Homo sapiens: one gene and its partner. The protein of the gene in region 1 interacts with the protein of each later gene in a pairwise test. Each region holds a gene or a part of one and is shown in the gene's direction. Other genes may lie near its edges.

Region 1 (5,092 bases):
CCACCTCGCAGACAGCGCGCTCGCCTGAAGCCTCCCTTACCCCCGCAATCCTCTTTTCTGCTCCTCCCGTCCCACTGCCGTGTGTGTCCCTCTGCTCCCTGTTCCCACGGCCGTTTCTGCAGGTGGGGACCAGCGTTTCCTTGACAGCTTCCTGACCTGGCCCCTCTCTGCACCAAAGTGTCTCCCTGGGGGAGGGGACCCTGCCTGGGTACCCCCATCCCCCTGCCTCTGGCACTTACAGGGGCCTTCACCACTTGCCCAGGGCAGACCCTACCAAGTTTCTGCCTCTCTCTTCCCATCTTCTCCCTCCCTGGCTCTGCCTCTCCCACTGTTCACTCTTCCTGTTTACCTTTCTCTGCCTCTCCCATCTCTTTCTCTCTCTTCTTTACATTCTATCTCTAACACCCATCCCTGCTTTGCTCCCCGCAACACACAGCCTTTTCCTCATTCCCCTCAGAGGACCCCACAGTGGCTGAGCTTCCTGTTCTGGATATGCCTGGCCGAGAGACCCTGGCCTGACACTGTCCTTCTGGGTTTCAACATGAATTTCCAGGATGGGACCTAGAGCTTAGGGACCCACGTCTCCCTCCGTCTAGTGCCTTAGCCCCTCCTGGGTCAGGCAGCTTCACCAATCAGCTTCTAGGAGGAGATGCTGTCCCTGGCTATGGGACATTCCTTGAGTCATTCCTGTGTCCGCCCAGTTGACCAACATCCACATACACTGGTTGCTGATGCTGTCTGCAGCAGGAGTTGGGCCTTCTCACATGGAGCCCCAGGGTGCTGGGGAGGCCACCCCATGGTGATTCAGTGGCTGGCACAGACACGCTGGGTCTGCTCAGACACAGCCAGGGCAGTGTCATTGTCTCCTGGGGATCAGGAGAGGCCTGGTGGAGGAAGGTACCCTGGGGGACAAGGCCGGGGGAGGATACTCTTTCCCTGTGGGCCTTATTCTTCCATTCATTCACTCAACAAGTACAGGTCAGGCTCCCGGGACACGGCAGGCACTGATGGTACTGGGGCACAGCGATGAACAGAGAGAGATTTGCTCACTGCCCTCAATGATTCATAGGGCAGCCAGCCTCGCCAGGGTGTCCGTGCCACCCCCCGCCTCCTGCTTTCCCCTTGTCTGCCTGCTCTGTTCATCCATCCATCCGCCTGTCCATCTGTCTGTCCACTTCTGCTGCGCTGACCCCATCTAGTAACTCACAGTTGGTTTCTTGTGGAGTCTTGGCTCTCTCCATCCCCCAAGCAGGGTTCAGTCCCTGAGGCAGTTGGGTTCTTGTTCCCAAGTTGATCACCCCCTCCTCCTGGTGGGGACAGGGGTGAGAGTCCAGTGATCCTTCTGCCTAGATCCCAGGAAAGGTCTAAGTTCAGAGGCCAGGGACTGGGGCTAGTTCAGAGGAATGACAATAGTGAAGACAGTGGCCTGGGCTGGGCACAGAAACCTGAGTCCTTTCCACTTAGTGCCTGGTCCCTTCATGCCCTGTGCATGCTCCACCTCCCAGCCCACTCTTGAGTAATTTTACCCCCACCTTGCACCTGTCTCAGCCATCAGAGGGATTCATGCTCTGACCTCCCTCCGCATTAGGACTGCCAGGACAGAGCAGCAGTTGGCCCCACTCCAAGTCACTCTAACCCCCTTGCCTTGGGAACCTGTGCAGACCAGCTCTGGGCAAAGCCCCCTACCACCTGGCCCCACCCCCCTGCTTTCCTTCCCTCCCTCTCAAGGGGTCTCCCCAATGGCTTCACTTAGTCTGGTCATGATGGTGGAGCTATAAGAGACATCAGCTGGGACTCCCTGAGATTGGTGTGTGCCCCAGCTTAGGTCAACAGAGTCGTGCCTACTAAGCTCCTCCTGCTCCCAAATCTGTCCCATTCAAAGAGAGCCAGGTGCATTACTGGGGACACCTGAGACAGAACTAACCAACCCTAGTCCTGGGCCAGGGCTGCTGACTGGCGGCTCTGGAGGTAAGAGGGAGGCCAGGGAGCCCTGGCCGAGAGTCAGTAGGCTCTGATTCAAGCCCCAACTCTGCCCTCTCTGGGCCTATTTCCCCATTGTACAGTGGGACAAGAGTCCTGCTGGTCTCTTGGGCCACATCCAGAGAGGCTCTGGAAGTAGGCAGGGTCTCTGCTCCAAGGGAGGGCTGAGGAGAGACCTGATGCCCACGGGGCCATCTCTGCAGGTGGCGCCTGGGTGGCATACGGAGCTACAACCCTGAGCAGATCATGCTGAGTGCTGCGGTGCGCCGGACCAGCCGGGACGTCAGCATCATGAAGGAGAAGCTTATTTTCTCAGGTACACAGCCCTGCAGACAGGTGGAGGCAGGCCCTGGGCCCAGCTTTCTGCACCCCCACATGCAAACAGATGTGTATGCACACACATTCACATGTGGCACATATGGGTAGGGACAAGGGCACAGACGTACATAAACCCACCGGGATTATACCCACAGACATACAAAGGCATAAGTACACGTGTGAAAACACACACCCCCACACACACAGTCATCCACCCTGTCATCCACCATGGCTTGGTGTCAGTGCCATGGTTGGTGGGCAGGGGTGGGGTAGGGAGAGGAGTCTGTTTTGAAGGCCCATCCCCCTTTGCCTGGTTCGTACTTGGATCCTACAATGTTGGCCTCACCCTTGCTCTTTGCCAGTCCCTGTCAACATTCCCAGTCTGATGGAAGCAGCAGCTACGTATATAAACAGTGGCAGGGAAAGTCGAGTTCCTGCGATGGGAGTGCCGGGCGGGGGGCGGGAGGACGTGGTCAGAGCTGCCTGGGCAGTGAGGAAGGCTTTGGGCGCCTGATACACTGAGATGGGGAGGATGCAGAGGAGGTGCTTTGGTAATGGCTTCAAGATGAGGGCCGAGTGAGCTGAGGGAAGGAAGGGCATTCCAGGTGGGCACGGCATGTGTGCAGAGGTGGCAAGGGAGCACCGCTTGCCTGGGCACCAAGAATGAAGTGTCCCTCTATATGGCCGAACTCCACTCAGCAGAGCTTTCTTGAGCCTCTGCTCTGTGTCCAGCACTCTACCAGGCCCTGGGGACATAGATGCCCAGAACCCACCCTGGTCCTTGAGGTATTTTGGGGGCCCAGGCAGCAACCATACAGAATATGGCCAGGGCAGAAGGAAGCAGGGTCTGGAGTTGCCATGAGGAGGCCCTAACTCGGCCCAGGGCTCCGATGAGGTTCCCAGGAGGCTGAGTGACAGATGAGAAGACTTGAGCCAGACTGTAGGAAAAGGAGGTGTTGTTGGGGCAGTCACTCCTAAGAGAGGGGCTGACACATGCAAAGGCCCTGAGGAGAGTGGACACATGGGTGCCAAGCTCAGGGGCACAGGTGGTTTTCTGTGGCTGCAGAGTCCCAGGGGACAGCAGATGAAGGCGAAGCTAGAGTGCTCAGCAGACACCAAAGGGGCCTTGAGTGCCAGGCTCAATGTCGACCTGAGCCCAGTGGTTTCATCAGCCTCCAAGTGCCCCGCTGGGTGGTGCAGCCTTCCTGCCCCATCTGTCACCCATCCTCACGACTGCCTCCTCCCCGACTCACATTCTGTCTCCCTCTGGCCCAGCAGAGATCAGCGATGGTGTAGAGGTCTCCGATGTGCTCTCCGTATGTTCAGACAACAGTTATGACACATATGCCAACAGCACCGCCACCCCTGTGGGCCCCCGAGGGGGTGGCAGCCACACCAAGACCCTCATAGAGCGGAGTGGGCGTTAGCTGAAGACATGTCTGTCCCACCTGTACCTGACACAGAAGCTGGGGAGCCTAGGAGAGCTGGTGGAAGTGTGTCTGAACTCGGAGTGCTCTGGGAGCGGGCTCCACAGCCTCCTTGTGGGCTCCAGCCCCTTGTCAGCCGCAGCCTCTCTTGAGGGGGACTCCCTGTCTCCTGAGGCCCAGCTGGGCCAGGACTCCATCCTTTCAGATGCCCCTGCAGGCCTGGGGCTCCTTCTGGGAAGTATGGGGCCTAGGGCTTGGTCCCCCTCTTCTGAGGCCCTCTCCTGTATCCCGACCTGGAAGCTTTGATGGGTCATGGGCCATGCCATACCCCCTGTGGCAATGGAGTGTGTGGATGCTCACCTGTGCCATCTGTCCTCCTGTCTGTGCCAGGAGGCACCTGAGTTCTCTGCTGTTATCCTGCCCCAAGGGCCTGGGCCGAGCCTCTACCTGAAGCAACTCTGCTCTTCCTGTCAGTCTCAAAGCACAAGGAGGTTCAGCCCAGGAGGAAGCCAGCTGCAATGTGGAGACACGTCCTCCTCCCCAACCCACCTCATGCCACCGCCAACCCCCTGCCCCAGGAGCGGGCCTGAGCCACGTCCTCTAGGAGCAGCTGGAGATGGCCAAAAGAGTGAGCTCAGGACTACTGGATCCCATGCCCAGGTGTCCAGCAGACCTCAAGGCAGAAGGGTCACCTAACCCAGGAGTCCACAGACTGATGTGACCTCAGGTTCCCACATCAGTGGCCACAGGGCAGGGCCCACCTGGTAGAAGTGTTCTGGATATGGCCAGGGTGGGTGTGTGGCTAAGTGGGCCTGAACAGAGGGAACCTAGGGCCCTTGGCCAATGTGATTAAAGCTGCCATCTTGATGTGTGTTGTCTCTGAATTGCCAGCAGGAGGGTGGGGACAAGTGCGCTGGGTCTAGGTTTCAGTTCTGACCCTATAATCTGAGGAGGAACCATTCTCAGGAATGAATGGGAAAGTGGCAGAATGGTGCCTCCCCTTCCCTGGGTCCGCCATGGTGCCAGTGGCTGGGAGCCGGTATCCTCATATGGTGGATGGGGAGACAGTCTTGGAGAGGTAAAGTGACCTCCAAAAGCCACACAGCTTAGAACAGGCCAAGCCAGAATCCCATCCAGACTCTGGCCCCAGCGCATATGTGTGCCTCCCATAAGCTAGGAATGACACGCAGAGGGGGAGGGCTCCTGGGTCCAATGTAGGGCTGGGAGTGGGACTGGCAGGTGCCCTCACAGCCACATGAAGGCATTCTGAACCTCCCGGCTATGTTGGGACAAGCCCTCAGCACAGGGAGGCCTCTTCCCCATGCCAGGAGTTTGGCTTTGACTTCTCCGAGCTTTGGACCTGCCTG
Region 2 (7,290 bases), on another chromosome or scaffold:
TTTGAATGCGTATCAGAACTTGTAGGTTCCTTAAAATGTTTATATATAAAAATATATTTAACCCCTTTGCTCTGTGTGGGAAGTCATTCTTTTTGATCTTTGATTTATACAAGTTCCAGATTGGTTTATATTTAAGTACAAGTTGCTATAGTTCAGTCTGAGGTAAATTGCATCAGCAGTTTAAAGGAGAATTTTAAACATTATATTCCAGAATATTTATAAATTAAACCACCTACTCTAAAATTAAGTAATACAGGTAATGGAACATGTTTCAAGTAACATTTCTCTCTTTCTCTCTCTTTCGCTCTCTCTCTCTCTCTCTCTCTCTCTCCTACTTACATCAGAAAAAAACCCAATGACTTGTTACTAGAGAACAGACTAGGGCTGATATTTTCATTCCTAGCATATGAAAAACCCAGGCTTTTACTGTTTAGTTTTTAAAATCTTTTTCACTATTAAAGAAAAAGGAAAGAAAAAATTGTTGAATGTGGCTGAAGGAGAATTATCTTTAAAATATTTTAAATACAGTTGTTTTCTAGAAAGCATTTTCTATAGTTATATAAAAGTTTGATCTCCTGATACTATAGTAAAATAGCACAGTTGTAAAGTGCATTCCCTTATATTTTCATGCATTTACAGATGAGTTTAATTATTCGAATTAAGATGTGTGATTTTTTTAGCATCCATTGAACTTTTATTATTTTATTATGTACACACATTAGTCTTTGAGAGTTGATGCAGAATTGTGTTGTAAAAGTGGAACTATAGTAATTTGCACACAGTCCATGTCAAGAAAATAATCATCACATGCAAGTGTTTGAACTCTCAGGGTCTTATCATGGATTCTGATATCAAATCCTATTTTATTTTTAAGTTAAGCTTAAATCTGTAATAAAAACGAGTTATTTTGACATTTTTTATTTATACACATTTATGTAAATACTTTTTTGTAGCAGTATTTTAGACTTATATAGGATATTCTCTGTGTTTCCACTTCCCCTCCCCAGCGCACATATATCATTATTCAGACAGCTTAGATAACATTCTGTTGATCCCTGTCAAGTAGTCAAAGTATGAAATTTTGGAGTTACTGTATTTGAAATTCTTTAGCTCAAATCACTGAGGGACCCATTTTAAAATAATCCCGTCTTATTATTTTGCTTCATTTTTAATATCTTTTAGCGACAGCGATGAGGAAAAGAAAGCGAGAAGAGGCAGATCTCCCAAAGGTGAATTCAAAGATGAAGAGGAGACTGTGACGACAAAGCATATTCATATCACACAGGCCACAGAGACCACCACAACCAGACACAAGCGCACAGCAAATCCTTCCAAAACCATTGATCTTGGAGCAGCAGCACATTACACAGGGGACAAAGCAAGTCCAGATCAGAATGCTTCAACCCACACACCTCAGTCTTCAGTTAAGGTGGGAATGGCAGTAGTTTACACATTATACATGGTTTTATTTTTATAAACCGCTCTTCGAATTCCTGCATTAGTAGGCTTGGGCATTTCTAGGCAATCATATTAATTATGGATCATCTGGCATGTATTACCAAGAGACATTAATAATAAGAAATCTCTTTGAGGGGAGAAACCTGTCCAATTGCTGAATGATTGGGTACTTTCTATGAAAGTAGAAATGACACTTTTGGTTTGTTTGGGGAAGGTTGTGAATCAGAATGTAGTGCCTCTGTCCCCATCTAGACAATACTGGTTACCAACCACAAGTAGATTCACTAAAGAAAACATTGGAAGTATTTGAAAGTTTTAAGAAATGACAAACGAGGGAGTAAGAAGAGATATATAGGGGCAAGTTATCTCATGTAATGTAGAAACGTTGCCTATAAAGGGAGGCGTGTTTGCCTCACAGTCATTACTGATCAGTATCAAAAGAAGCACTGCCTCTTGTACCATCTTCGTTTGTTTTTATTTACCATAGAGATGAAATCCACCTGCTAGGTACCTGGCCAAACCCTAGTCTTTTCAACAGAAATCTGCCAAATAGGGAGATTTGCCTCAAAAGACTAAATTATTGTTTTTGTCACTTTCCCCGACTACTGTTTCCCCAGTTTGTGTCTTTGCAAGAGAAATAGCTAAAAGCTGGGAAAAACAGTTTTCTAATGTATGCAGCAGATTGTAGGTGACTCTGAAAATAAAACCAGGCCTGCTTAGTTGCAATAACAAATACCATGTCAGCTTTTGCCAAATATCTGTATAATTTTTTTAATAATAGAGACTTTTATCACATATCTTAAAGGATTTTAAATAACAGTTTGTAGTATAGCCTGAATATATGACACTCTGCAATAAATATTTTATATTTGTAGTACAAGCTTTTTCTTTTTCTTTTTCTTTTTTTGGAAGACCGAGTTTCGCTCTTGTTGCCCAGGCTAGAGTGCAATGGCGCGATCTTGGCTCACCGCAACCTCTGCTTCCCAGGTTCAAGTGATTCTCCTGCCTCAGCCTCCCGAGTAGCTGAGATTACAGGCATGCACCACCATGCCCGGCTAATTTTTTTGTATTTTTAGTAGAGACGGGCTTTCTCCATGTTGGTCAGGCTAGTCTCGAACTCCCGACCTCAAGTGATCCACCTGCTTCGGCCTCCCAAAGTGTTGGGATTACAGGCTTGAGCCACCGCGCCCGGCAGTACAAGCTTTTTCTTTTTTGTTTTCATTTACCCTCCTCCCCTCAAAAAAAATGTCTAGAAGGTTGAAGTTCTTAGAAAGTTACCCAACTCATTTGGATCTGTTCTTAAAGGTGTTTTGGAATCACAGTATATAGTATTTTAGTTTTCAAAGTTCAAATCAACATGCCTAGGATCTTAGGGTTTCCCCATTGCCTAATAATTGAGTTCTAATTTAGCATGTATATATCTAACATATAGGACATAGGTATTTAGGTATCAGGGTGCTTAGCTTTGTGGAGAAGATAAAAATAGTATTACAGGTATAGGCCTCAGTTTAGTTGGGGAACTAAATATGAAACATATCAATATATCAAATAACATAGAATTATACTAACTTGTGTGATATACAAACAATAAGTTTTGCTAAGGTTCATAGAAATTTAGAGCTGTTTAGGATCTTGACCTCTAATCCAGTGGATCTCAAGCCTTGGAATTATCTAGGGAGCTTTCTTGTAAGACTTTAACAGGCCAAGGTCTTGGCCTTTTTATACCTGGGCAATTATGACTCAGTGTATTGTATGGGACTGGTACATATGCTAGGGTATTTTTTTTTTTTTTTTTTTTTAATGAACTGATACTTAGCATTAAGATTCAAGTGGGATCTGGCAGTTAATATTTTCCAGAGTGAAATGCAGTCAGAAAAGTGAGGTAGGAAAAAAAGTGTCAATGTTAAGAGACTTTTACACTGCTGGGAATGGAGGTACTTAAAAGTGCTTGCTGCCTCTCCATAAGGATTCAAGGTCAGTACTCTTTTTCCAGAAAACCCTACCCTTATTAAGCTAATTACAGGTATTTATGTCTAAATTGAGAATTAGAGATGGATAGAGCTGATTTTTAGAAAAACAAACTTTTCGAAGCTCCTGAGTTATGTGTGTGTTTTCAGACTTCAGTGCCTAGCAGCAAGTCATCTGGTGACCTTGTTGATCTGTTTGATGGCACCAGCCAGTCAACAGGTAAGCTTCTACATTGGCCTTTTCTTTTGGTTTGAGAGTCATTTTTTAAAATGCCAAATAAAAGATAGATTGAAAAATAAGATTACTTATTTGCATTGGGTTCATTTTTTATATGAAATTAGTGAGTCTTGAGCATTATTTGGAATCATTGTGTTATTTTTGCTTATCTTTTTATATGTACACCCATTTCTCTATCCCTATTTTATACCTTTTTCTGACCCACCCTCAGACTAGCAAAACTTTGTTTGTGGTCAGTACTTATTGGTGGTTAATAATAGTATCCTCAAATCATTATCATACTTAGATTTTAATGACTCCTCATACCTGATGTACTGTGTCTTCCCTAATTAATAATAAATAGTATTTCAAGGCATCATGTACTTTCTGAAATTTTTCATCATAGATTTTGGAATCTATAGTTTCCATTTTTAATTTTTAAGATTAACTTGGAGAAACAAAAAATTGCATTTAAACTGTTGCCTTTACTTTCTTTATAAGCAAAAGGTACTGCTCTGCGCATTTTACTGTCTTTCCCTAAATTTTAATTGCAGCTGTCACCTTGGGCATGCCTAGAGATCATTTAACTTTTTATTCTTTTAATTGAACAAATATTTGTTGAACCAGACACTGATCTGGGTGCTTGTAAAAAACAGAGTTGTTGTCCTCATGCGAAGGTCAAGTGGAGAAAATAATCATTAATCAGAGTCACAAATAGTTATCTAGTGATAAACAATGGCAAGTGCTTCAGTCAGAGGAATGACATTCTCTGAAAGTATGTAACTACCAAACATATTTAAAGAGGGCGGCTGGGCGTGGTGGCTGACCCCTGTAATCCCAGCACTTTGGGAGGCCGAGGGAGGTGGATCACCTGAGATCAGGAGTTCGAGACCAGCCTGGCCAACATGGTGATACCCTGTCTCTACTGAAAATACAAAAATTAGCCGGGTATGGTGGCAGGTACCTGTAATCCCAGCTACTCGGGAGGCTGAGGCAGGAGAATCACTTGAACCCGGGAGGCGGAGGTTGCAGTGAACGGAGATTGCGCCATTGCACTCCAGCCTGGGCAACAACAGTGAAAAACTCCATCTCGGAAAAAAAAAAAAAAAAGAGAGGGCTACAGCAAAAGAACTGTTTACCTTGAATTTCTCATAGATGAGATTGATGATTTCTTCAGTTTGATTTCCAGTATGTGCTAGATTTTGAGTAATTTCTGATCAATTGTTTTCAAGAAAATTGATATTTTTAGGGTTGTATTTGATGATTATGGAGTTTTAATAAACTATTGTGTGACGTGTCAAAATAGTTTAACAAATACATCTTCTGTTTAAAGACAGTCTTTCCAAGCCTAAGTTCATTTCACATTAAAATGTAGACAGTAAGATGGGGGTATGACTAATGTGCAAAGTAAATTTATTATTCCCAGTTGTGTGTAATGATTTTTCAAAGCCGAATTGTGGCTGTGCACAGTGGCTCACACCTGTAATCCCAGCACTTTGGGAGGCCGAGGCAGGCGGATCACCTGAGGTCAGGAGTTCAAGACCAGCATGGCCAACATGGTGAAACCCTGTCTCTACTAAAACTACAAAAATTAGTTTGGCGTGGTGATGGGCACCTTTAATCCCCGCTACTCAGGAGACTAAGGCAGGAGAATCGCTTGAACCCAGGAGGTGGAGTTTGCAATGAGCTGAGATCATGCCACTACACTCCAGCTGGAGTGACAGAGCAAGACTCTTGTCTCAAAAAAAAAAAAACTTTAACTTAACCTTTAAGTGTAAGTCTATGCTGGAAATTACTTTTCACTGATAGTTTAGTATAATTAATGTAATATAAAGCCCCCTATTATTTCCTCCTCCTTACCTACTATGTTAAAATTCTTGGATTAGGCATGAACTTTATTCAAGCAATTCTCTTGCCTAAGCTTCTCGAGTAGCTGGGATTACAGTCACCTGCCACCATGCCTGGCTAATTTTTGTATATTTAGTAGAGACGGAGTTTCACTGTGTTGGCCAGGCTGGTCTCGAACTCCTGACCTCAGGTGATCTGCCTGCCTCAGCCTCCCGAAGTGCTGGGATTACAGGTGTGAGCCACTGCACCCAGCCCAGACATCTGGTTTGACCTACTTTCTTTCTCTATTTTTTTTTTTGAGACAGAGTTTCGCCCTTGTTGCCCAGGCTGGAGTGCAGTACACAGTCTTGACTCACTGCAACCTCTGCCTCCCGGGTTCAAGCGATTCTCCTGCCTCAGTCTCCTGAGTAGCTGGAATTTCAGGCATGCGCCACCACGCCCGGCTGATTTTTGTATTTTTAGTAGAGACAGGGTTTCTCCATGTTGGCCAGCTTGGTCTCAAACTCCTGACCTCAGGTGATCCACCTGTTTTGGCCTCCCAAAGTGCTGGGATTACAGGCGTGAGCCACCATGCCTGGCCAGCCTACTTTCTGAAATTCTTCAATTCCCTTTCCCGTTTTTCTGTAACTGCAAACTGTTCCTAAAATTATTCATTAAACTTGATTGGACTGTAATGCCCAAGGTTACGGACAGCTACATTAGTTGTGTAACAATTTATGTGATATATTTTTATATGTTTAAGATTTGAACTGTAGAATTAACTGGTAGTTAGCATGTAGTCATATAATACAGATATAGTGTCACAGAATATCAACTATTTTGGACTTCCTGGCATGAAATATTTAAAGGGCCCCTTTCATGCATCTGTGAAAAGTTTTAATGGAGCAATCAGAGAAGAATTAACTAGGAAGGTCAGATGGGTGGATGTAACTTTTCCTCTGTGACATCAAGATTGCTTTGAACAGAGAGATTTATTAAATACCAACATGCTTCCTTTACTTGGCAAGGAACCTTTGAGTGGTTTGTCTTCTCCAGTGCAAACAGTAGTTTGACTAATTAAATAGAAGTAGCAATTGATATTAATATAGTAACTGAGAAAGTTTGAATGAAATCTAGGAGGTTTCTTGCCTTAAATTTTATTTTATCTTAATAAAAAGCAACTAATAGAGATTGATATTAGAAGAATTTTTTAAAATTAAAGTTATCTCCTATTTGAAACCGTATGTTTAACCAGTTTGTGCAGCTCCCTCTTCAATCAGTACATAAATTTAGTTACTCCCAATCTCTATTTAAATATTTTAATAATATATTTTAAATTGAATTCAGCAGTGAAAGGAAATTGGGCATTAAATCTTTAGCACTTACACGAGAAGGTATAAGAATCTACCATATTAACATTGCTATTTGGTATGTCATTTGGGTGTCATTTACCAGATGTGCCCATATTTATAATAGTACCATCATGCAAGTAATGTGGGCACAAACTGTAAAGCTAAGCAGATATGGCATCTGTACCACTCACCAGCTAAATATATCCTCTGAGAAAATGTTCAGATTTTTGTGTGTGTGTGATTACATGTTCTTAGCATTCTCAAAAGTATATATGGTAAAATCATTGTAGAATATCTTACCAAGTTTAAAAATATATATGTAAAACCTAACTATCAGGATTTACTTGAGACTATCTCATATCTTAATAAAATGTCCCCTTGTGGTGATATTCTTTTAAAACCTGTACTCACATGGTGTTTCAGTTGCTTTTACATAAAGTACATTTCTAAGTAAACATTTTAAGAAATG

The links.
Region 2: the proteins of GDPD5 (region 1) and CLINT1 interact in binary tests that used the Homo sapiens proteins (3 or more experiments, as listed by UniProt).

What each region holds. Positions count from the first base shown.
Region 1 is NC_000011.10:75,434,140-75,439,231, reverse strand, and holds the end of GDPD5 (glycerophosphodiester phosphodiesterase domain-containing protein 5), read left to right. Parts: intron 1-2,183; coding exon 2,184-2,296; intron 2,297-3,573; coding exon of another isoform or gene 3,574-3,576; coding exon 3,577-3,725; 3' UTR 3,726-4,592; downstream 4,593-5,092. UniProt on the Homo sapiens protein: Glycerophosphodiester phosphodiesterase that promotes neurite formation and drives spinal motor neuron differentiation.
Region 2 is NC_000005.10:157,800,005-157,807,294, reverse strand, and holds part of CLINT1 (clathrin interactor 1), read left to right. Parts: intron 1-1,182; coding exon 1,183-1,429; intron 1,430-3,575; coding exon 3,576-3,645; intron 3,646-7,290. UniProt on the Homo sapiens protein: Binds to membranes enriched in phosphatidylinositol 4,5-bisphosphate (PtdIns(4,5)P2). May have a role in transport via clathrin-coated vesicles from the trans-Golgi network to endosomes. Stimulates clathrin assembly.